7 linked regions of the Homo sapiens genome follow. The protein of the gene in region 7 interacts with the protein of the main gene of each other region in a biochemical or structural test. Each region holds a gene or a part of one and is shown on either strand. Other genes may lie near its edges.

Region 1 (3,500 bases), on a different chromosome or scaffold from region 7:
ACTTATGCTTATAAATCCTGCTTTTCAGCAGTGAAGGTGTTAATGGTTCCTTAAATGAGACCAAGAGTATGGTAGGGTCTGTAACTGTATGGTGCAGCAGGAGTAGGAGTTTCCACTACGCTTTGTTACACTAATAACCCTGAATTATCAATCAGCAAGTCAGCGTGTTTTAGAAACTACACCACCCACGTTTCCTCTGCCTCCTATAGCTGCACACTAAAATAGCCTGAAGGTGAAGCCAGACAGACACCCTTGTCATTGAATGGGCTGACCGTGACCAATACAGTTGAGTTTACTTCTTTTGCTAAAATCATGGAGAAAAAAGAGCAGCAACAACAACAACAACAACAACAAAAATGAACAATACAAAGCTTGAGGGCAATCACTGTAACAATTTTGAGAGAAATAAAGTTGAAAGTGGCTGAACACAATGATTAGCTCAGACTTCACTTTCACAAGAAGGCTATTTTTGGAGTTACATATTTTAATTGTTGATAAAGAAGGCTGTAACAGAAAGAATGCCCAGTCAATATGTAAAATGATAGCAATTTACTATAACAACCATAAAATCATCAGGCTACTGACAGCTGGAGAAATTCCACATGCTAAGCAACTCAACTCCAAAGAAATATTAGAGGTTTGAGATGAAAAATACACTTGAACCTGTAATTGAATTAGACAAGCCTCACTGCACGTAGGGCTACAGCGGTCACCAGGACACAAAGCAAATGTCGGGTTACCAGAAGTGCAGTTATCAGCCACAGTGATTTATTGAGTGCTTTAATAATACAAGTGTACATCAACTGATCCACAGTCAAAAGTGGCAGGTCCCTAAGAAATTTACAAGCACTTTAAGTAAATCAAAATACATATTATTTTGTTCAATCCAACAGTCTTCTGCGGGAGGGACAGAAGGCTAGTGATAAACAGAGTCTCAGTAATGCACAGTGATTCTGATTGAAGCTTTTGTACAAAAACTTGTTCCCAGTAGCATGCACCCACCAATAAAGACTTCAGTACAAAAAATTAACCCTAAGCACTACATTTAAGTAGAAACGAGATATAATTCTGAATGTGTTTTCCCAAAGATCACATAAAAGAAAAAAAAATCAAAATCAAATAAACAACAACAAAAAAAACAAAACCACACAGTAATACAAAGCTTTGTAAGAAAGCTCTTACTATTACAGCTCCAACATTGTTTGCACTGAAAACAAAAGTTCCCATCTATGATGAGGTGGGAAAAAATCCCAAATCTTTCAAGTTAACAGAAATCAACAAGGGAATAAAATGAGAGATAAAAGAGAGCGTGGGAGAGAGGAAGGGGGGCAGGAAGAACTGGGATGGGAAGATGGACAACATACCATCACAAAATGGTTCCAAATTTAATAAAAATAGGAAAATAAGAACCGAGGTCTGGAGGGGTGGGCAGGGCTACCGATGCACTTGGTGAATGTGCTTGCACAGGTCCCGCGGGGCGGCAGGCAGCAGGCCCCTATGTGGCGTACCGCTTGGTCCACTGTCTGGCCATCCGGTCATGCTCTGCTCTGTTGGTCATGTACTGTGTGGCGATGCTGCCCACCAGAGGGTCAGCTGCAAGGAAAGCAGAGTTGGGAGTCAGTAAATACCAGCACTGTGGGGGAAGAAGTGTTCAGAAAGCTGGCAAGGAGTGGGAGGGTAGGAGATGAGAAGCTGCTGTTCTAACCTGGACCACCATTGCTGCGGCTGAGCCAGTCACCTGCTGCTGACAGACTACATTTCACACCAGCTGCCCCAAGAGTCACCTATCTGTATTTTACTGATAGCTCTTGTCATATTTCTTGACAAGTCTTATTCTCTTTCCCTGTACCCACCACATACTTCTCACCTTGCTCCCCTCGTATTGGTTTTTTTTTTTTTCTTTTGAGACAGGGTGTTGCTCTGTCACTCAGGCTAGAGTGCAGTGGCATGATCACAGCTCAGTGTAGCCTTGACCTCCTGGGATCAAGCAATCCTCCTCCTGCCTCAGCCTCCTGAGTAGCTGGGACCACAGGTGTGTGCAACAACACCTGGCTAATTTTCAAATTTTTTTTTGTAATTTTGGGGGTCTCACTATGTTGTCCAGGATAGTCTCAAACTCCTGGGCTCAAGTTATCCTCCTGCCTCAGCCTCCCAAAGTGCTGGGATTACAGGTGTGAGATGCCTGTCTTCAAGTAGATATTTCACGGAGAAAATGCAGGTGGGCTGTGGGCAGGGGACTCATGGGCTCTTGATGAGCTCTCCTGGGAAGACGTTTGGCGGTCTGGACAACTCCTTACCCTAGGCTAGCACCACAGGCAGGTGGCATTCTCCTGCCAGATTACCTTATCTGAGGAGACGCCAGAGTCTGAGCTGGACAGTCAAAAGAGGGGAGAGATGGTCCACTTCTTCCTCAAAATTTGGTAACATCCAACCTACATAGCTCATTATTACAAAAATACTAATAGATGTTAATAATAGCTAACACTCACCATGACTAACCATGTCCTAAAACTCTAATATGTTAATGACATGGATTTCTAAGGAGCTGACACAGGAGGAAATTGGAGCATAAGGAGGCTGAGTCTCTTGCCCAACGTGGAGAAAGGGGTGGAGCAGGGCTTGGAGCCAGAGTTCACCCTCTTAACTAACAGGGTGCTGTTAGTTAACAGGGTGCTTAACTTAACAGGGTGCTGGGAGATAGCTCTCTATCCAGAATATTGATTGGGTCAACGTTTAATTAAAAAAATTGGGGCACGGTGGCTCATGCTTGTAATATTAGCACTTTAAGAGGCTGAGGCAGCAGGATCGCTTGAGTCCAGGAGTTTGAGTCTGTAGTGAGCTATGATCGTGCCACCACATACCAGCCTGGGTGACAGAGTGAGACCCTCTTTAAAAAAAAAGACAAAAAAAAAAAAACAAAAAAACAAAAAAACAAAAAGCAAAGCAATTAAAAAAAAAGTAACTTAGGTTCCTAAAGATCCCAGATTCTACTCTTTTCCCTCCAATTCTCTAATTTCACTCTTTCCCCGATTTATATTTCCCCTATTTTTGGTATTGGGAATTTGGGTATATTAGAGCAGTCAGGTAAGGAGGATCCACTAGGGAAAATGAGAAAAATCATCAAAAGCTAATGTTTGGTAGGAAAAAAATAGTAGAGAATATGGAACTACGTCTGTGGCCCAACACCACCGGCAACTTGGGAAGATCCTGAGACTAACCTTGTAAGGCACTCATGGTCATATGTTCTCAATATGAAAGGTATAATAGAAACACCACTTTTTAACCTATCTGCTGAAGCTCATGATAACAAAGCCTTTGAAAGCCTGCTCAACAAGACTTGCTTAAGTTTTCCTGGAATTGTGTAAATCTCGTAATAATTATTCCAGGGAGAAGCCAGTTTCCTACATTCACTTATATCACAATTAGTAGACTACTTAGTATGTGGGTTTGTTCGAAACGTTTGCCTCTCTGCCTACTCTTTGTGATTCTTCTTCATTTTC
Region 2 (3,500 bases), on a different chromosome or scaffold from region 7:
CCATACCAGCACATAGGCATATATACAAAGATCCTGCTACAGAAACTTTAAAGGAAGAAAATCATGGTGATCAGCCAGGGCCTTCTCCCTTTTCCACTGTTCAACTCAACTGATTTCCTCAACTCAAAAATGTGGGAACAAGCTTTTCTAGCCATAATACTCCCTCCACTGCAAATGATCTTCCTGTACAAATAGTATCATACACATCCTGATATGTCTGTATGACAAAGCCAGAGTCATCTGTCTCTTCAACTTGCATCTGACTCACGTGTGAGGCTGCAGGAGTCAGGCTGCCTTTCCTCTTTGCCATTCTTCACAGCCAGGAGTCATTTTTGTGGCAAAAATTGAAAAAGACAGATCTATAGGTAGATACTTAAGTCAACTATTTAAGAATTGTTGGGATTGAAGGATCTGAGGGCACCTGGAAGTTCACCTGATTCAATCTTAACTGTTCTGACATTCAGCCTTTGTTTGAACACATGCAGAGATAAGAACATTCGTTTATTCGTGCAACCCCTCCTGTAGGTACAGGCTTGGTGGCAGCAGGGCAAAGGAGGACACAGAGCTCTCTGCATTTTGATTCCAATGTCTCAATGTTTTTGGTGCTCAGAAAGAACTTTATCCTCTTCCTTTTTTTTTTTTTTTTTTTTTGTCTCTTCCTATTTCTGCCCAAGGAATGAGTCCAGGAGTAGAATCCTGCTCCTTCTCTTCTGATAAAAACTGCAATTGTTTTCTCTTCTTTCTGAGTACCCAGCATGGGTTGGACCAGCACCTTCTTTAGTCTTCTTGCAGGAAAGGGACTTCCCGCTCTGGCTCTGGAACCCAGAGATGTTTGGCCTGTGATCCAGACCCAGTCTTGGCTTTTCTGAGAAAAAGTAGACTCTGGTTTACTCTTCTGGATTCTCCATTCCGGTCATGTAGCTTATGGCTGTTGCCCAAGTTCTCTTTACTAGCCCTTGGAAAATAAATCCTGATGTACAATAGTTGTTGGCTTTGCCACATCAGCTGCTTCCTTACTGGGCCAACTTTCCCACTGTCCCTGCTGCTCTCAGTTTTTCTCTCCTCCTGAGCTGGGCTTCAAGGGCTGTAGCCCTGGGTCTCCTGTCCAGTTTCTGCCCTACTCCACCATCTGGTCTGGGCTTTCTGAGTTTTATCATGAGCACCCTTCTCCACTCAGCAGTTTTCAACCTCTGGTCTCTGACCCCAGTTCTCAGACTGGGAACTTCCATATTGAAAACTTGACAAAATGCCTGCTAACAGCTTGTTACAGCAGGTTTTGAGTTATCCGGGGGAGCTGTCAGGAAGCCAGGTTAGGATGAAGCAAGACAAGAAACGACATTATTTCTAGGGCTGGGGAAGCCCCAGTCAAGACAGTCAGCCACAGCCTGATAACTCTCCCTGCATGCGCAAGCCCACCGCTTGCAACCTGGAGGAAGCTCCTGTCAGCAATGGGCTCTAATGACATGTCAGAAAACAGAACAGACAGCTTAAGAGACCTTCACTACTACTTCCCTGCTTTCACAGCAGGTGTCCTGGTGGTACAAACCCCAGGTATGAAGCTGCAAGGAGGGACCCAGTTCCAGGACACCAAGAACACCCAGCTACTCAGCAATCTCCTTCCACCGTGGACCTCGGCACATGAACACAGCACAGGCACCCAACGATTCCGCCAAGGCCTGCAGGAGTGTTGTGCCTGGTCCAACCCAGAGTGTCAACAAGCATGTCTTTCCCAACATTGTTACAAAGTGCAAGGATAGAGTCTCCCAAGTGTGCGGCTCCTTTCACCTACCTTGTCTCCTGGGATCCTCATAACAGCCCTGTGAGGTGGGAAAGGGGGCTATTCTTAACCCCATTTGAGAGATGAAGAAACTCAAGCTTAGAGAGGGAATGGGAGAACTCGAGGCCACCTAGTGAGAGGCTGGGACTAAACCCTGGGTCTCTTGACTCCTGGTTCAGTGCTGCACCCACTAAGCAGGCTTTCGGAAGCATTGGGACAAGCAAGAATGCCCCAGGAGATAAGGACATCCCAGTGCTCCCCACTGGCCAAAGCAAAGCACACCATGCAGAAGCATCCTCACGTTCACAGATAGCTGCTCCAACCTCCTTTAGCACAGACACAGTGCAAGCCTCCACTGATGCTGTGCTTGCAAAACACAAACATCTAGCACTTCCAACAGCCAACTAGACCCGGCAGAACCTTGGGGACAGGCTTGACTTCACCCAACACAACACCACTGCCACAGAGTTAGACACTACTTAGGCCCACCTTGTCCTCAAGCATGCTGCCCTGCTCAGAGCACCTTCCACTTTCCTCTCTCAAGGCCACAATCTACCTGAGTTTGGGCTCTCTTCTGACTACTTGTGCTACAAAGTGTCTGCTCCTTGTTTATCTCCAGACTCAACCTCCTTCCCTGGCTGCTGAATTTCATATGCCAGTGAATCAACCAGCAAAAGCTCTCAAGCCGGACCAACCTCTTTTTCTCTCACTTTGGGACCTACTAACTCCCCCACCAACCTCAGTGGTTCAGTGGTGTCTGCAAAATGCATCCATCCTGCCATCTGAGTAGCAGGTGAGAGTTATGGGCCCAAGCTTGGGAAGAACCTCTCTCCTTCTGTTTTGACCTGCTGGTCTCCTGGGACTTCCCATTCTAAGCACCCCAAGCTTCTTGGGAAGGAAGAGGTAGCAAATAGCTAGTTGGGTGATGAAGGTGTTTATCATTCAGTGGGAAGTAGGGGGTGGCTGTGCAAAGAGTGGAGTCTGAGGCAGGGTGATTGAGACACCCCTAGGCCTCCCATACACGCTCAGGCCCATCCTCTGGAAGTGAGGAAACAGTGGGCAGATTACCTCGGTTACAGATACTGCAGAAGTTGCTGGGCCCCTCGCTGTGCTTCTTCAGGTGGTCTGCCATGTATGCTGCCCGCAAGTACTTCCCACACACCTGGCAGGGCACCTTGTCTTCATGACAGGCCAGGTGGGAGCGCAGACGGTCTCGGGTGGCAAAAGAAGCATTGCAGGTCTGAAGGCAGAAAAGAAAATGGGATGATGTGAAACCCAGCACCCCACACCTGACTCCCCACCAAGTGCACCATGAAGCAAAGGCAATTTCTGGCCATCACATGACCTCCCTTTATAAAGACAGCTTTAGAGTTTGGCTCAGGCTCCCTACCCAGAATGCCAAGAGGCTGCTCTTATTTCCCATGGTACCTCCTTACGGGACACTTGAGTGGGAATCACTGGTACTAACTAAATGACTACTGGAAATGTACCCAGGACATGGCAAGCTAAGCTCTATACCCCTCTACACAATGAAGAGTTACACATTTGCTCATCCTTAGACATTAAGAATTGACTTTAGGTGCATTAGCTATAATGCACAGAATTACATTTACATGAATTTACAGATGAGTTATTGGCATATAAACCAGCCTTCCTGTTCTGTATCCCTGGGTTTCCCCTAGTTTTATACAAAGAATTATATTTGTTCATTTTATTCAAAAGT
Region 3 (3,500 bases), on a different chromosome or scaffold from region 7:
TAGCAAGTACTCAAGGTAGTCATTCCTGTGGTTTCACATAAAAAATAACACACACGTATGACAAATAATATAAGACATATGTAAACTACGCATAGAAGTAGCAGGAAGTGAAGAATCAGCTGAGGAAGGTGTAGGTGAATATATTAAGGATGCATCACTAATAAGACAGGAAAACAGTCAAAAGCAAACTATTCAAAAATTCAAGAGGCAAAGTACAGGAACAAATATCTATAGGAGGGTCTCTCAACTTCAGCACTAGACATTTTGGCCCAGATAATTCTTTATTGTGGGGGTCTGTCCTATGTATTACAGGGTATTCAGCAGTACCACTGACGTCTACCTACTAATGTCAGTGGTAGCCCCCTTCTCCTTCAGTTATGAAAAGCAAAAAATATCTCTGGGCATTACCAATTGTCGCCTAGCCTGGTGGCTGGGGAAGGGGAGGACAAAAATTGCCTCAGTTGAGAACCACTGATCAAAAGGCAAAAGAAAGGTTAAAAGTTTGAAGATGTTTCAGCTTCCAGATTCCAATTAAAATGCCCAAATATACTTACCTGTCAAAATTGGTATGTGGAAAAAAAAATCACTTTCTATTTCTCTAGATTTACAAGTGATTTTATTATGTTTTTATCTCATATTGATAGGGAAGAAGAGACTGAAAGGACAAGTTCTTCATTCTCAATCTGAATGTCCTTACACTCTATGCAAGACTTGCTGATTTTCCTGAAAAGTAAACATATCCATCTGTTGTTACAGCAACTCATTTAAGGAGAGCATAAAGTACTAATTGGTTATGAGAGGAATATGACTGGTTATGTGAGCATGTAGCTGCGAAGTAAACATATAACTTTTTTTAAAAGCACATGCTGTTTTACCCACCTTCTAATTACATTATCTGCATTGAACTTAATAGATCCTTAATAAAAATGTGAAGTTTAGTGGGAAGAATATTATTTTCAGTTGGTCACTCTTTTGGAAAATGTTTCCAGTCACACAGAGTACTGAGTATTTCTGCTACACTGGCACGTATGGAGGAAATAACTAGGCCTACTGTGAGTATCAATTTCCTCTTATAAGCAAAAACAGTAGCTAGGTAAACTTTGAATAGGTTATTAAATATTAAGTATCATAATTATGAAAAAGGTAAAGAATGTATAGGATATTTAATAAATTTTCTCTGAAGTCATTGTTTTGCCTGGAATTGCTATTTCTATGTCAATTTGAGAGACTTCAATTTATTTATTAACAGACCTTCACATGCAAAGCACCATGTGAAGTAAGGAAAAGATACAAAAATGAATGAGACAATCTCTCCATTCAAGGAACACTCGCTCTTGCAGAAAGCAGACAAATATTATAATACAGCATGAAAAAAGTACTTTATTACAGTTGTGTTGAAGAAACTATTAGCTTGTTGAAAAATAAAACGTCAATTTGCTTTGATCATAAACCATTTAAAATTATCACTAACGCCCAAGTCCCCAGAAAAACCCTCATGATTTTTGAGGTTTATGCTGATGCCAAAATGAATTTATTAACAATAAAACTAATAATACAAACTATCTGTAGATGACCACCCACGGCATAATGGGATGAAAAATACTTTGTCAGAGTAGTTCTGTATTTATCTGTTTTACAGTCGAGCTTCCAATTAAGATTTAATTTTTATAAAAAGCGGGTTCCAGGACCTTTTTTTTTGAAGAATTGAAAATAAAAGGACTAGATAACTAATGAGATACAATCTTGTAGCAAACACTAAAACAAAAACAATCAAATGTATTAAGTAAAGAAGAAAAAGCAGTCTATCTACATGTGTGAGAGAGTTTAAAACCAAGTACTCTATAAGCAACCAACAAAGCTAATATAGGGATCACATGTTATTTCAATTATTACCTGCTTTCATACGCCAATTAGAAAAAAGCTTTCAAAATTTCTCCTTAGTTCACAGACATGGAAAGAATGCTATGGGGTTAGGTAATGCAGGTAACAGCAATCCAGAATGTGAATTTTACAACTGCTGATATAATCCCATTCACAGTAAAATCACAAATTCTTCTATTTTAAAAGGGGAAAATATAATCATTACTCATCTAAAAATTGTTTATTATACTTTACTGGACAATCATAATATTCTCTATTGAATTAAATATCATTAATCTTATGCATGTTCCTTTAAAAGGAATACAATATTTGTTCATCTATGCCTGAAGTTTTTAGGCTAATTTTCTTTTTTACGCAAGTTCCTAGGAACTGCTTTTACTGACATTAAAAAACAAATTGCTTGTTATGTACTTGTACTCAATTATCTGGTGAACTGACTAAGATAAAATTACATAAGATGTCAATGCACTAGAGAAAATGCCAGCAACAGTGAGAGCACATCACTACAGGCTACACTGTCTCTCCCATTTTTATCTTGCTGTGGCCACTTTACTGACTCGATTTACACTGCTACAAAACTTAAACACATTAAGTCATTTAATCCTCACAATAACCCTATTATAAAGGGGGGTATCATTTTAATCCCCACTTTACAACTGAGGAGAAGAACCGAAATATTCCAAAATGTATCTAAGGTAATAACATAGCAAGTTAGTGACAGAGCATGGATCTGAAACCAGACAGTCTTGCTCCAGTACCAGCACTTTTCAAACCTACTTATATATACAATTCACCAGGAATCTTGTTAAATTCAAATTCTGGGTTGGGGGTTGGGGGAAGCAAGAGTCTGCATTTCTAACAACCTCATCTGTGACGCAGATGCTGACAGTCAGCAGCTCACTCTTTTAAGTAGCAAAGTTCTAGTCCGCCCTAGAAAATGATGGAAAGTGGTAGCAACCCTCAGAAGAAAGCAGAATTTATCCTCAGACAATTAGGCTAATGAGGAATCTAGAGATTATCAACTACTGGTTTAGAAACAACTGCTTCTTTTATGATTTCATTATTTTTTTATTTTTAAAGAAGAAAGTCAACGAAATCACCTGATCTCAGGTTTTGCTAGTCAATATATTAATACTATTAACTTGAAACTGTAATACATATCCCCCAATATGGCCTTTCCCACATCAAGAAACTATTTATTAATACAAATACCCCCAAATATCTCCAGTATAGATTCAATCTGAACATACACTCTTAAAATATTCGTCAGTATATTTGTGCTTCTTCCTATATGGAAAGAAATTAGGGGTTAAGTTAGAAATCCAGTACCTTTCTAAACTTTCGCTGTTTGCACAAGTGGTGACTAGGAGAGGACAAGGACACCCTCTGGGAAACAGATGGAAAGTAAATGTCTTAATAACACATCACTAAACAATTCTAGTCAACAATTCTCAATAAATACAAATAGGGAAATGCCCATAACACAATTTCCCTTGACTCTCATTGATGTATAAATTATTTATACTTTATGTAAACAGCATAAACTGAAACCAATAAATAAACATATCCCTATGTTTAGTACACTATGGCCCATGGCCCTCCAATACCTAAAACCATTT
Region 4 (3,500 bases), on a different chromosome or scaffold from region 7:
AAGGGGGGGTATTAAGGAAGGACACACCAGGAACTAATGAAATTGATTCCCTGCATGGGGTAGGGGGAAAAAGGTAAGGGTACAGGCACAGGAGTGAGGCCTAGCTGAACATGCCTCAGTGTAATTCTGACTTCTGAATCATGTAAATGTTTATATTACCCAAAATAAAATTCAAACTAAAAGTAACAAAACCTTATTACACTTAATGCAAATAAAAACAAATGAGTTCGGGCCAGGCATGGTGGCTTCAGCCTACGATCCCAGCACTTTGGGAGGCCGAGGCGGGTCGATCACCTGAGGTCAGGAGTATGAGGCTGCAGTGAGCCATGACTACATCACTGCACTCCAGCCTGAGTGACAGAGCAAGACCCTGTCTCTCTCTCTCTCTTTTTTTTTTTTTGAGACAGAGTCTTGCTAGAGTGCCATGGCGTGATCTTGGCTCACTGCAACCTCCGACTCCTGAGTTCAAGCCTTCTCCTGCCTCAGCTTCCCGAGTAGCTGGGATTACAGGTACCTGCCATCACGCCCGGCTAATTTTTGTATTTTTAGCAGAGACGGGGTTTCACCATGCTGGCCAGGTTGGTCTTGAATTCCTGACCTCAGGCGATCCACCCACCTTGGCTTCCCAAAGTGCCGGGATTACAGGCATGAGACACCACGCCTGGCCAAGACCCTGTCTCTTAAAAAAAAAAAAAAAGAAAAGAAAAAAGAAAAGAAACAAATTTAATTCTATATCAAATTGACAATATACCACAGAGAAAAGATTTATTTCAAATGACTTTTGACTACAGTGCTCTGCAAACCTGTAGTGGGACATATTCTAAGGCCAACAATAACACTCCAGGGGCAGTAAACACACTAGATTGGCTCCCAGGAGAGATATGTGATTCTGCTTCTGGGGCATCTTGTGCCAGAAAGCCCGGGGAGTGCAAGAGAAAAACAGGGAGGGCCCATGAGAGGCCTCTAGCAGTGGTCCAGGTGTGGCCCAGGGTGGGGGCAGTTGAGGATTTGGGGCTGGTCTAGGTGGTGAAGCAACAGAGCTCGCAGGTGGATTAGTGTGGGGGTGAGGGGCAAGGGTGAGTCAGGGACCATGTCCAAAGCCTGGGAAGATGGTGGTGCCACTGATTGAGAAGGAAAAGACTGAGGGGCCGGCTGGGTGCAGTGGCTCTCACCTGTAATCCCAGCACTGTGGGAGGCTGAGGCAGGTGGATCACCTGAGGTCTGGAGTTCGAGCCCAACCTGGCCAACATGGTGAAACTCCGTCTCTACTAAAAATACAAAAATGAGCCGGGCGTGGTGGCAGGTGCCTGTAAGTCCCAGCTACATGGAAGGCTGAGGGAGAAGAATCGCCTGAACCCAGGAGGCAGAGGTCGCAGTGAGCTGAGATCGCAAGACTCCGTCTCAAAAAAACAAAAACAAAAACAAAACCACTGGAGCGGCAGGGGAGCAACACCCACAGAGACAGTTATACCATCAAGGAGAGAAAACAGTTCTTCAGCTACTCGCTAGAAAGGGGGGAAACCCCGCTGTGATCAGATTCTGAGTTGGGCCTGAATGAAAATGAACTGTCTGCTTGGGGTTTTAAAGGCTTTTTATTGTGGTAAAATATACAAAACAGGTCAGGTGTGGTGGCTTACACTTGTAATCCCAGCACTTTGGGAGGTGAGGCAGGTGGATCGCTTGAGCTCAGGAGTTTGAGACCAGCCTGGGCAACATAGCAAAACCCTGTCTCTACAAAAAAAAAAAAAAAAAAAAAAAATTAGCTGGGCATGGTGGTGTGTGCCTGTAATCCTAGCTACTCGGGAGGCTGAGGCAGGAGGATCACTTGAGCCTAGGAAGTTGAGGCTGCAGTGAGCCGTTGATCATGCCACTGCACTCCTGCCTGGGCGAACAAACCAGACACATATATGTCTCAAAAAAAAATACATATATATATATATATATATATATATATATATATATATATATACACACACACACAAAACAAAGTTTACCTTTTTAACTATTTCTAAGTGTACAATGAATGAACTTTTTTTTTTTTTTTTTTGAGACGGAGTCTTGCTCTGTCACCCATGCTGGGGTGTGGTGGCGCAATCTCGGCTTACTGCATACAGGCTCTGCCTCCCTCCTGAGTTCAAGCGATTCTCCTGCCTCAGCCTCCCGAGTAGCTGAGATTACAGATGCGCACCACCACGCCCAGCTAATTTTTGTATTTTTAGTAGAGATGGGGTTTCGCCATGTTGGCCAGGCTGGTCTTGAACTCCTGACCTCAGGTGATCCACCCACCTGGGCCTCTCAAAGTGCTGGGATTATAGGTGTGAGCCACCATGCCTGGCCCTAAATGAACTTTTAAGAGCACTGAAGATGGGAAATAAAGGGTCTTTAACTCTACTGTAATATTCTAGTTCTTTCTAATGGAAATTACTTGAAGCAAATATAGTATGATGATTTTCAATTCTGTGCAATGAAAGGCACATGGGTGTTTGTTAATTTGCTGGCTGCTACTTTTATAATTAAAGACAAATTTCAAAAAACCCACAAAGAAGCCTGGATTGTGCTGGGTGTGGAGTGCAGGTAAAAATGATAAAAAACGTGGATGGAGCTGGAGTCCATTGTCTTCAGTGACACAGCTCAGACACAGAAAGTCAAATACCGTACGTTCTCACTTAGAAGCAGGAGCTGAATAGCATGTGCACATGGACAGAGTGAGGAATGGCAGACACTGGAGAGACTGGGAAGGGTGGGAGGGGGTGAGGGATGAGACATTACTTAACGGGTACAATGTCCACTATTCAGGTGATGGTTACACTGAAAGCTCAGACTTCACTACTATACAATATATCCACGCAACAAAACTGCACTTGTACCCTTTAAATTTAACAAATAAAAAACAATGATAGAAAACAGGTATTCCAAATGAGTTTACCCTTAGCCCAGAGGGCCTGCCCAGTCCCAGGGTGACCTGGGCATTTGCACACCCTCACTAAGCCTTCACTGCAGGACCCAAGGGAGGGAGGCTGGGCTAGGGTGCCAGGTGACTCCCCAAGGCTGTCCCCCAGGGGGTTTATGGTGTTTGCCGAAACACAAACTTTTTCAAAGAAACCTGCCAGGTGTGGTGGCTCATGCCTATAATCCCAGCACTTTGGGAGGCCGAGGCAGGTGGATCACCTGAGGTCAGGAGTTCGAGACCAGCCTGGCCAACATGGCGAAAACCCCATCTCTATTAAAAATACAAAAATTAGCTGGGCATGGTGGTGCATGCCTGTAATCCCAGTTACTCAGGAGGCTGAGGCAGGAGAATCACTTGAACCCAGGAGGCAGAGGTTGCAGTGAACCGAAATCGTGCCACTGCACTCCAGCCTGGGTGACAGAGTGAGACTCCATCTCAAAAACAAACAAACAAACAGAAAACAAAACAAAAAAAACCCCATACACCTCTCTTCATCCTCCCTCTAATCAGAACCCCCCACACACACACAATCTTGATTATGAGGAGAACT
Region 5 (3,500 bases), on a different chromosome or scaffold from region 7:
GCTGTGTCTGGATTAGGTGTGATTGGACGAGACAGATACGGAGTTTTTCCACTCAGGGGCAAAATTCTTAATGTACGGGAAGCTTCTCATAAACAGGTATGTATGTGTGTGTATATATATGTGTATACACACATGCACACATACATATGACATTTCTAATACTTTACTAAACTTCTCGAATTTTTAAATGTAATTTCTGACTCGTATATTTCAACACTTCAAACTACTCTCAGTGCTTTTCCTTTTTGAACAGATCATGGAAAATGCTGAAATAAATAATATTATTAAAATAGTTGGTCTACAATATAAGAAAAGTTACGATGATGCAGAATCTCTGAAAACCTTACGCTATGGAAAGATTATGATTATGACCGATCAGGTTGGTTTTAAAGTTACCACATATTTCAAATTCATGTCTTCTTCAGATTCTCCCTTTAATATTTGTTTTATGAGACTTGCCCGAAGATGGTATAACTGAAAGTGATTATACATCAGGAGGAAAAAATGAAAAAACCACGTCATTTAGTGGAAACATTTTTATGAAGCACATTTTACATTGTCTGATTTTTGGGGTAACTAAGGAGAATATAATACAGTGTGGTACTATAGCAGCCTACCTACAAGTAGGAACAAAATTATGGAATTAACAAGTAAGAAAGATTAATGATAAGGGTTAATATTTATACATGATGGCATGATTTGGAATGCACAAATACCAGGACTTAAATAGTAAAATGATGGTAATCGAGAAAGAACTAGAAAATTGAAAAGGAAGAATTTCAGATGCATTCAACTGTTTTCTCTTATGCACTCTAAAGTATTTGTAGAGAAAATCTGCAACTGAAAAAACTGCTATTAATATATAGTTTTAAGCAGAAATTTTCCAATTTTTTATCTAGGGAAGACTTGTGAATATCTGTATTACCTGGGTTTCCCTACCATTGCCCATTAAGGTGGCATTATAACCATGTTTTATTTTATGTATTTTCTATCCTTAAATCATTCTTTTAGTGAAATCTGGGGAAACTATAAAACAGATAAAATGATAATATATTTTTATAATGACAGATTCAGTCTATTACTACTATATTCTTTATTTGTGTATTAAAAAATTTAGTATGATCATCTTAATAGCTTTTGTAAAATGCATTTCTAAAATTCAGAATTTTGGTTTTTTGCATTCACGTTTTAAAATTTGTTTATATAAGTAATCATTTTATAAAAGTATTACAACATTTTTTACTTTACTAACATTTATTTAGGATCAAGATGGTTCTCACATAAAAGGCCTGCTTATTAATTTCATCCATCACAATTGGCCATCACTTTTGAAGCATGGTTTTCTTGAAGAGTTCATTACTCCTATTGTAAAGGTACTCTTTGCATTAATATATTTTTATATTGTTGTCTTAAAGGGTAGCAGAAAAACTAATTTTGTTTTTTAATTAATTTAAGGCAAGCAAAAATAAGCAGGAACTTTCCTTCTACAGTATTCCTGAATTTGACGAATGGAAAAAACATATAGAAAACCAGAAAGCCTGGAAAATAAAGTACTATAAAGGTTTGTATTTTAAAATACTTAGATTTTAAATACTGATATAAATGTATTCTTATGAAAGCAATCTAAAAGATGACTTGAAAGTTTGACTATTTTAGACTTCGAAAATAGCTATCACTGATTTTAAAGTATTGTTATAGAAAAATGTATGCAAGTAGAATAGTGTAATAGATTTCATTGAATGGGATCACCATTTCAATGGCTAGTCTTGTTTCCTGTAAACCTCCTTTATTGCCACTCCATTAGTTTGAAAAAACTTCCAGACATTATAGTCTAGTATTTCACCTATAACTACTTCAGTATGTATTTCTGAAAGAATTTTTTTAAGTAACCCATAATACCATTATCATAACCTTCTTTAATATCCTATTGTTGAGACAGGGTCTTGCTTTGTCACCCAGGCTGGAGTGCAGTAGCATGAACACAGCTCACTGCCGCCTTGACTTTCCGGGCTCAAATGATCCTCTTGCCTCAGCCCCCGCAAGTAGCTGGGACTACAGGTGTGTGCCACCACACCCAGCTAATTTTTGTATTTTTGTAGAGATGGGGTTTTGGTTTGTTGCCCAGGCTGGTCTTGGACTCCTGAGTTCAAGCCATCCACCCACCTTGGCCTCCCAAAGTATTGGGATTACAGGTGTGAGCCACCATGCCTGGCTCCCTTTTTTTTTTTTTTTTTTTAAATAATGTTAAATACCCAGCCAGTGTTAAAATTCCCCTGGACTGTATTAAAATTGTTTATTTTTAGAGTTTTTTATTTTTATTTTTATTTCGTTTTTTTTTAATTGTTTTTATTTTTTTGAGATAGAGTCTTGCTCTGTTGCCCAGGCTGGAGTGCAGTGGTGGGATCTCGGCTCTCTTCCTCATGTGTTCAAGTGATTCTCATGCTTCAGCCACCCAAGTAGCTGAGATTACAGGCATGTGCCACTATGCCTGGCTATTTGTAGTATGGGTGGGGTTTTGCTGTGTTGGCCAGGGTGGTCTAGAAGTCCCGGCCTTAAGTGATCCGCCCACCTCAGCCTCCCAAAGTGCTGGGATTACAGGCATGAGCCACCATGCTTGGCCTGAGTTTGTTTGTTTTTTTCCAAAGTCAGGATCCAAGTAAGGTCCACACATTGCATTTGGTTGATAAGTTTATTAATATAGCATTTCTCTTTTTATATTTTTTCCTTGTAATTTATTTGTTAAAGAAGTTGGGTTGTTTGTTCTGTGTAATATTCCACATTCTGGATTTTGTTAATTATATTCCTCTAGTTACATTTAATATATAGTATTTTCCTTTGCCCTTATTTTCTGTTAACTGATGGTTAAATCAGAGGCGTGATCAGATTTGGGTTACATTTGTTTGGCAAAAACATTTCATAGGTAGCGTTGTGTGCTTTCATCAGGAAGCATCTAATGTCTACTTTGTCTTTAGTTGCTTATTAAGATTGATCACTTAGTATAGGTGTTGCCAGCTTGATCCATCTATTACAACTTTTCCACCAGCTTTTTACTTGATGGTTTTAAACAGACATTGATATTCATGACTCACTTTTATTTTTAAAATTGTGCAGGATTGGGTACTAGTACAGCTAAAGAAGCAAAGGAATATTTTGCTGATATGGAAAGGCATCGCATCTTGTTTAGATATGCTGGTCCTGAAGATGATGCTGCCATTACCTTGGTAATTAAGTTAATTTTTTAAAAGCTTTTGTTAGCCATCCCCCTACCTTCTATTCCTTTCCTCCCAGTCCTGGTTCCCTATGATAAGTCTCTTTTGAATGCTCAAGCTAGTTAATTTTAATTTTTCCCCCAGATGATGCTGTGCTTGTATAAACTTCTTTAATTGAAAGACCTTAGTTTAAATGTGTTTTTGATTAAAATATTGTAAAATAACCTAATTTTCCAGAAATTAAGAATTAGTTATTGGCCACTTATACATTTTAATTTTGTAATAAAATTT
Region 6 (2,882 bases), on a different chromosome or scaffold from region 7:
TCTGATATCTACTCCCGACCTTAAGCCAGGAGACTTTGTAAACTTACTAGGTTATAATAAAACTTAAGAACTATCGATATTTACTAATCTACATCATGGAACTATTTCAAAAGCAGTCATATGGTAAGATGGATCAGGAGTCTTTAAAAATAAAACTGAGAAAGAAAAATCATGTGATCAATTCAGTAGTAGAGACAGAGGTTGGTATCAAGTCTATGTTCATACACTTACCAGTGCCACCCAGCAGGGCCATACAAGACACATGAAATGAGATCAGCTCAAGGGTGACAAGATGAAACTGGGAGAGGGCCGGGGAGACCCGAACTCTTAATATTGGATTCCACACAAGAGGAAAAATTTTAGTCCAGCTCCCAGCATGGCAGCTAATGGCAAGTTAGTACCATAAAGCCAACTCTTGGAATATACCTGACTTCCACGATAAAATGGAGATGAGTGCAGGGGTGAGTGTATAGTTAAGAAAACAAACAATATATTACTAGTCCAGGTGGTAGATGACAGATTTTTATTATTTACACTTCTCTCAAATTATTACATTCAGCATGTTTTGCTTTTTATGTTATTTAAAGTATAAACCCTCATATAATTCCCTAAGATGGGTGGCATGCCAAGTAGCTAAATGAAATATCATCCCAGCCCAAAAGTACTTATTCGAATGAAATATTACATTTTTCTTAAATAAAGCAATAAATTAGGTACCCTATTATCATGGTATTTTCTTTTTTGGCCAGCTTTTCTAGATAAGGTTGTATTGCTACTGCAACTAACAAAAAAGATGTGGCAGGGCTGGGCACGGTGGCTCACGCCTGTAATCCCAGCACTTTGGGAGGCCGAGGCGGGCAGATCACGAGGTCAGGAGATGGAGACCATCCTGGCCCAACATGGTGAAACCCCGTCTCTACTAAAAATACAAAAAATTAGCCAGGTGTGGTGGCAGGTGTCTGTAGTCCCAGCTCCTCAGGAGGCTGAGGCAGGAGAATCGCTTGAACGCGGGAGGCAGAACCTGCAGTGAGCCAAGATCATGCCACAGCACTCCAGCCTAAACTACAGAGCTAGAAAGTGGCTAGAGCAGCCAAAAAAAAAAAAAAAAAAAAAAAAAAAAAAGGTTCCTGAACCATTCAACAGAAAAATGAGGCCTATTCCTATCATTTCCTCGATCCAATTTAGTTCCACTTAGGTCACTGTGTTTATAATGTCTTTTAGGACAGATTTCCTTCCCCATTCTCCATCAAACAACCATAGCACCTGTGACTTTTATCTGTTGGTTTGTATTTAATCTTATTTTTAAGTGCTTCTTTGAAATTGTTTTACAAGTACATTCTTGGTCTAGAGTAAGGTTCTATATAGTTGGCCCTCCATATCCATGGGTTCCACTTCCGTGGATTCAAACAACCAGACAAAATATTCCAAAAAACATTGTGTCTGTAGTCAACATGTATATTTTTGTCATTATTCCTTAAACAATAGTGTAACTATTTACATAGCACTTACATTATAATAGGTATTATAAGTAATCTAAATATTAACATAAGCGGGAGGATTTGTGTAGATTGTATGCATATACAACATCATTTTATTCCAGAGACTTGAGCATCTGCGAATTTGGATATCCAAAGGAAGTCCTAGAACCAGTTCCCGACAAATACCAAGAGATGACTTTACTTTAGACCTAAGATCTTGCTAGACAGCCTTTGAGAGGATGAAGGATAACTAGAGCAGAAGCAAATCGCAGCGAAGTAGACTACAACAATCAAGTCAAAAAACATAAAGCTCCTATCAACACCTCAAGATTTTAGAAAAGCCTCTTAACGGGCAATTTTCTTTTAAATAAAGACTGGGTCCCACTATGTTAGCCAGGCTGGTCACAAACTCCTGGACTCAAGTGATCCTCCTGCCTTGGCCTCCTAAAGTGCTGGGATTACAGGCATGAGCCACTGTGCCCGGCCTGGGCAGTCGATTTTCAGGAAGCCACTTAATGTTCAGATTCTTTTCTTCTCTCCCAGGACTTTGCAGATGCTGCTGTTCCCTCTGCCTGGAGATGTTCATCTGGCCTGAATCCAAAAGTCTGTCCAAGTTACTTCTCTTTTCCATGACAGAGTTACAACTATTTGTCTGTCCCCCTTCCCCATTAGAGTATATGGTCCCCAAAGGAAAGCCCCATGCCATTCACTCACCACCTAATCATCCCCAACAACTAGTGGGCAAACATGAAACACTTTTGTTGAATAATGTGTTTCCTTTAGCCCAGGGATTACAAAGTCAAAGGCTTACAAGGGGGAAGGACTAGCAGGTGTGCTCGGAGGGGACTCTAGCCAACTGGAGAGTAACTGGTGAGAAGACAATGACATGCTCTTAGGGTGTCTGCTACTCAGATCCTCTCAGTTAAGTCCCGTGCACAAAGGTGGGTCAGGTCTACTGTTGCCAGATCTTCAGATCATTCAAAAGTTACCCGAATTCTGGATTTTCATGCAAATCTCCCAATTTTTAAAAATGTTGGCATCAAATTCAGAATGTTTTAACCAGCCACACTGTGTGGGCCAGGGAAAACAGGCCCAAAGGCCAGGTGAAGCTGCAGTTTTCAACTGCTGCCTTGGCCTCTCCCAGAGCCCCTTAAGTCCTAAGAAGGCTCAGTCAACACACTGGCACTCGTTTCATCCCACTGGTTGAGAAAGCAAGTCTTAGCAAAGTAATGGGGGAGTCTTACCAAAACTGCAAAGGAAAAAAATATGATACCATGAAATTAGAAATTCACTGCATTTGAAATGAAAATGACTTATTTCTGTACTTCTATAACTCACAAATTTAGCAGACATCATTTAGACATTTTTGTAGTGCAACAGATTTAAATCTGGAATTTCATGGTT
Region 7 (3,500 bases):
CAGAGCAGTCCAAATCTCAAAGCTCCAAAATGATCTCCTTTGACTCCATGTCTCACATCCAGGTCACGCTGATCCAAGAGGTGAGTTCCCATGGCCTTAGGCAGCTCCACCCCTGTGGCTTTGCAGAGTACAGCCTCCCTCCCGGCTGTTTTCACTGGGTGGTGTTGAGTGTCTGCAGCTTTTCCAGGTGTACAGGGCAAGCTGTCAGTGGATCTATCATTCTGGGGTGTGGAGGACAGTGGCCCTCTTCCCACAGCTCTACCAGGTGGTGCTCCAGTAGGGACTCTGCTTGGGGGCTCCAACCCCACATTTCCCTTCCACACTGCCCTAGCGGAGGTTCTCCATGAGTGTCCCGCCCCTGCAGCAAACTTCTGCCTGGGCATCCAGGTGTTTCCATGCATCCTCTGAAATCTAGTGGAGGTTCCCAAACCCTCATTGTTGACTTCTGCGCACTCGCAGGCTCAACACCATGTGGAAGCTGCCAAGGTTTGGGGCCTGCACCTTCTGAAACCACAGCCTGAGTTCTACTCTATGTTGGCCCCTTTTGGCCACAGCTGAGACGGCTGGAACGCAGGGCACCAGGCCCCTAGGCTGCACACAGCAGGGGAACCCTGGGCCCAGCCCAGGAAACCATATTTTCCTCCTGGGCATCTGGGCCTATGATGGGAGGGGCTGCCATGAAGGCCTGTGACATGCCCTGGAGACATTTCCCCCCACTGTCTTGGGGATTAACGTTTGGCTCCCTGTTACTTATGCAAATCTCTGCAGCTGGCTTTAATTTCCCCTCAGAAAATGGAATTTTATTTTCTAGCACATTGACAGGAGGCTGCAAATTTTCCAAACTTTTATGCTCTGCTTCCCTTATAAAACTGAATGCCTTTAACTGTACCCAAGTCATCTCTTGAATGCTTTGCTGCTTAGAAATTTATTCTGCCAGATACCCTAAATCATCTTTCTCAAGTTCAAAGTTCCACAAATCTCTAGGGCAGGGGCAAAATGCGGCTAGTCTCTTTGCTGAAACATAACAGGAGTGACCCTTGCTCCAGTTCCCAACAAGTTCCTCATCTCCATCTGAGACCATCTCAGCCTGGATTTCATTGTCCATATCCTTATCAACATTTTGGTCAAAGCCATTCAACAAGTCTCTAGCGAGTTCCAAACTTTCCCACATTTTCCTGTCTTCTTCTGAGCCCTCCAAACTGTTCCAATCCCTGCCTGCTACCCAGTTGCAAAGCTGTTTCCAAATTTTCAGGTATCTTTTCAGCAGCATCGCACTCTACTGGTACCAACTTACTGTACCAGTATGTTTTCACGATGCTAATAAAGACATACCTGAGACTGGGCAATTTACAAAAGCAAGAAGTTTACAAAAGCCAGTTCCAAATGGCCGGGGAGGCTTCACAATCATGGCGGAAGGCAAGGAGAAGCAAGTAAGTCATGCCTTACATAGATGGCAGCAGGCAAAGAGAGCTTGTGTAGGGAAACTCCCCCTTATAAAAGCATCAGATCTCTTTTGTTTTTTTAGATTAAGTCTACTCTGTTGTCCAAGCTGGAGTGCAGTGGCATGATCTCGGCTCACTGTAATCTCCACCTCCTGGGTTCAAGCAATTCTCCTGCCTCAGCCTCCCAAGTAGCTGGAACTACAGGCATGTACCACCATGTCCAGCTAATTTTTGTATTTTTAGTAGAGACAGGGTTTCACTATGTTGGCCACACTCATCTTGAACTCCTAACCTCGTGATCCGCCCGCCTTGGCCTCCCAAAGTGCTGGGATTACAGGCATCAGCCACCGCCCCCGACCTAAAGCATCAGATCTCTTGAGACTTATTCACCATCATGAGAACAGCATGGGAAAGACCTGCCCCCAAGATTCAATTGCCTCCCACTGGGTCCCTCCCACAACATGTAGGAATTCAATGTGAGATTTGGGTGGGGACACAGCCAAACCATATCAGCACCTGTATTCCCATTTACTTGGGACACTGAGGCAAGAGGATTAATTTAGCTTAAAGTTTGAGGCTGTAGGCAGGGCATGGTGGCTCATGCTTATAATCCCAGCACTTTGGGAGGCTGAGGCGGGCAGATCACCTGAAGTCAGGAGTTCAAGACCAGGCTGGCCAACATAGTGAAACCCTGTCTCTAATAAAAATACAAAAATGAGCTAGACGTGGTGCTGCCCACCTGTAATCCCAGCTACTCGGGAGGCTGAGACAGGTGAATCACTTGAACCCAGGAGGTGGAGGTTGAAGTGAGTTGAGAAAGAACAAGATTCTGTCTTTAAAAAAAAAAAAAAGTTTTAGGCTGTACTGTGCTATATAATTGCACCTGCAAATAGCCACTGCACTCCTGCCCGGGAAACATAGGAAGACAACCTTCTCTTAAATTAAAAAAAAAAAAAAAAGAAAGAAAGAAAAGGGCTGGACGTGGTGGCTCACACCTGTAATCCCAGCACTTTGGGAGGCCGAGGTGGGTGGATCACAAGGTCAGGAGTTCGAGACAGGCTGGCCAACATGGTGAAACCCCATCTCTAGTAAAGATACAAAAAATTAGCCAGCCGTGGTGGCACATGCCTGTAATCCCAGGTCCTTAGGAGGCTGAGGCAGGAGAATTGCTTGAACCCGGGAGGCAGAGGTTGCAGTGCTGAGATCGTGCCACTGTACTCCAGCCTGGGTGACAGAGCAAGACTCCGTCTCAAAAAACAAACAAAAAACAAAAAAACACAGATGATCATGATGGGAGAATAGGAGAGAACATTTCTACCTGAGGCATTTTCAACTTTTCAACTTGCAAGAGTAGGAGGCGAGAACCAACACTGGAAGACATCAAGAAGGTACTTACAAGGGAAGCAAATTTTAGTGCAGGTAACACAGAATGCTGCCATATTTAGGAGCAGAATTTAGCAGTAGTTTGGCTAAAGTAAGAGGTGAGGTGTGGCAGACAGGGAAATGCCTAGGCCCTAGGACAACTTCCCTTAGCTGGTGAGAGGAGAAAACTTAGGAAAAATAACTTTGAGGAATACAATACAGTTACTGAGAATCAATAAATTTTCTTGAGGATAATTATCAGACTCCTCTGCGGTGAAAGCAAAAATAAAGATACTATTTTGTTTTTACTATTTGAAGTTTCTAGAAACATTGGCCATGTGCTTTCCCACCACACAAAAAAAGCAGATGACATAACAAAGCCTAACAAAAGGAACAAAGGTAGGAGTCAGGGGTGGGGTGAAGTTTCGAGCTCTGCTTACTAATTGTGTGACCTTGGGCAAGTGACCCTGATCTCCCAGTGCCTCAGGAAGAGTAAAATGGGGCTAACTACAACAACTATCTTATAGAGTGGTTCTGTAAGAGAGTAAGAAGTAGGGAATCACTCAACCATAGATATTAAATCATGAGTCTGGAGTCTGAGACCAGCCTGGACAAAAGGGCAAGACCCAGTCTACAAAACTTTGTTAAAAATTAGCCAGGTGTGGGCCAGGCGAGGTGGCTCACGCCTGTAATCCC

The links.
Region 1: the proteins of RNF4 (region 7) and UBE2E2 form a complex in vitro, tested with the Homo sapiens proteins (one study listed by BioGRID).
Region 2: the proteins of RNF4 (region 7) and PATZ1 form a complex in vitro, tested with the Homo sapiens proteins (one study listed by BioGRID).
Region 3: the proteins of RNF4 (region 7) and UBE2E3 form a complex in vitro, tested with the Homo sapiens proteins (one study listed by BioGRID).
Region 4: of the proteins of RNF4 (region 7) and MECP2, one has a biochemical effect on the other in vitro, tested with the Homo sapiens proteins (one study listed by BioGRID).
Region 5: of the proteins of RNF4 (region 7) and TOP2B, one has a biochemical effect on the other in vitro, tested with the Homo sapiens proteins (one study listed by BioGRID).
Region 6: the proteins of RNF4 (region 7) and UBE2N form a complex in vitro, tested with the Homo sapiens proteins (2 studies listed by BioGRID, with this or other methods).

The regions. Positions count from the first base shown.
Region 1 is NC_000003.12:23,587,827-23,591,326, reverse strand, and holds part of UBE2E2 (ubiquitin-conjugating enzyme E2 E2), read right to left. Parts: intron 1,594-3,500; coding exon 1,496-1,593; 3' UTR 1-1,495.
Region 2 is NC_000022.11:31,332,847-31,336,346, forward strand, and holds part of PATZ1 (POZ-, AT hook-, and zinc finger-containing protein 1 isoform long C), read right to left. Parts: intron 3,018-3,500; coding exon 2,846-3,017; intron 2,571-2,845; exon of another isoform or gene 2,503-2,570; intron 1-2,502. UniProt on the Homo sapiens protein: Transcriptional regulator that plays a role in many biological processes such as embryogenesis, senescence, T-cell development or neurogenesis. Interacts with the TP53 protein to control genes that are important in proliferation and in the DNA-damage response.
Region 3 is NC_000002.12:180,987,105-180,990,604, reverse strand, and holds part of UBE2E3 (ubiquitin-conjugating enzyme E2 E3), read right to left. Parts: intron 3,268-3,500; coding exon of another isoform or gene 3,211-3,267; intron 1-3,210. UniProt on the Homo sapiens protein: Accepts ubiquitin from the E1 complex and catalyzes its covalent attachment to other proteins. In vitro catalyzes 'Lys-11'- and 'Lys-48'-, as well as 'Lys-63'-linked polyubiquitination.
Region 4 is NC_000023.11:154,035,218-154,038,717, forward strand, and holds part of MECP2 (methyl-CpG-binding protein 2), read right to left. Parts: intron 1,645-3,500; exon of another isoform or gene 1-1,644. UniProt on the Homo sapiens protein: Chromosomal protein that binds to methylated DNA. It can bind specifically to a single methyl-CpG pair. It is not influenced by sequences flanking the methyl-CpGs.
Region 5 is NC_000003.12:25,626,908-25,630,407, reverse strand, and holds part of TOP2B (DNA topoisomerase 2-beta), read left to right. Parts: coding exon 1-96; intron 97-253; coding exon 254-379; intron 380-1,262; coding exon 1,263-1,373; intron 1,374-1,455; coding exon 1,456-1,561; intron 1,562-3,111; coding exon 3,112-3,221; intron 3,222-3,500. UniProt on the Homo sapiens protein: Key decatenating enzyme that alters DNA topology by binding to two double-stranded DNA molecules, generating a double-stranded break in one of the strands, passing the intact strand through the broken strand, and religating the broken strand.
Region 6 is NC_000012.12:93,405,184-93,408,065, forward strand, and holds the end of UBE2N (ubiquitin-conjugating enzyme E2 N), read right to left. Parts: 3' UTR 501-2,882; downstream 1-500. UniProt on the Homo sapiens protein: The UBE2V1-UBE2N and UBE2V2-UBE2N heterodimers catalyze the synthesis of non-canonical 'Lys-63'-linked polyubiquitin chains. This type of polyubiquitination does not lead to protein degradation by the proteasome.
Region 7 is NC_000004.12:2,475,606-2,479,105, reverse strand, and holds part of RNF4 (E3 ubiquitin-protein ligase RNF4), read right to left. Parts: intron 1-3,500. UniProt on the Homo sapiens protein: E3 ubiquitin-protein ligase which binds polysumoylated chains covalently attached to proteins and mediates 'Lys-6'-, 'Lys-11'-, 'Lys-48'- and 'Lys-63'-linked polyubiquitination of those substrates and their subsequent targeting to the proteasome for degradation.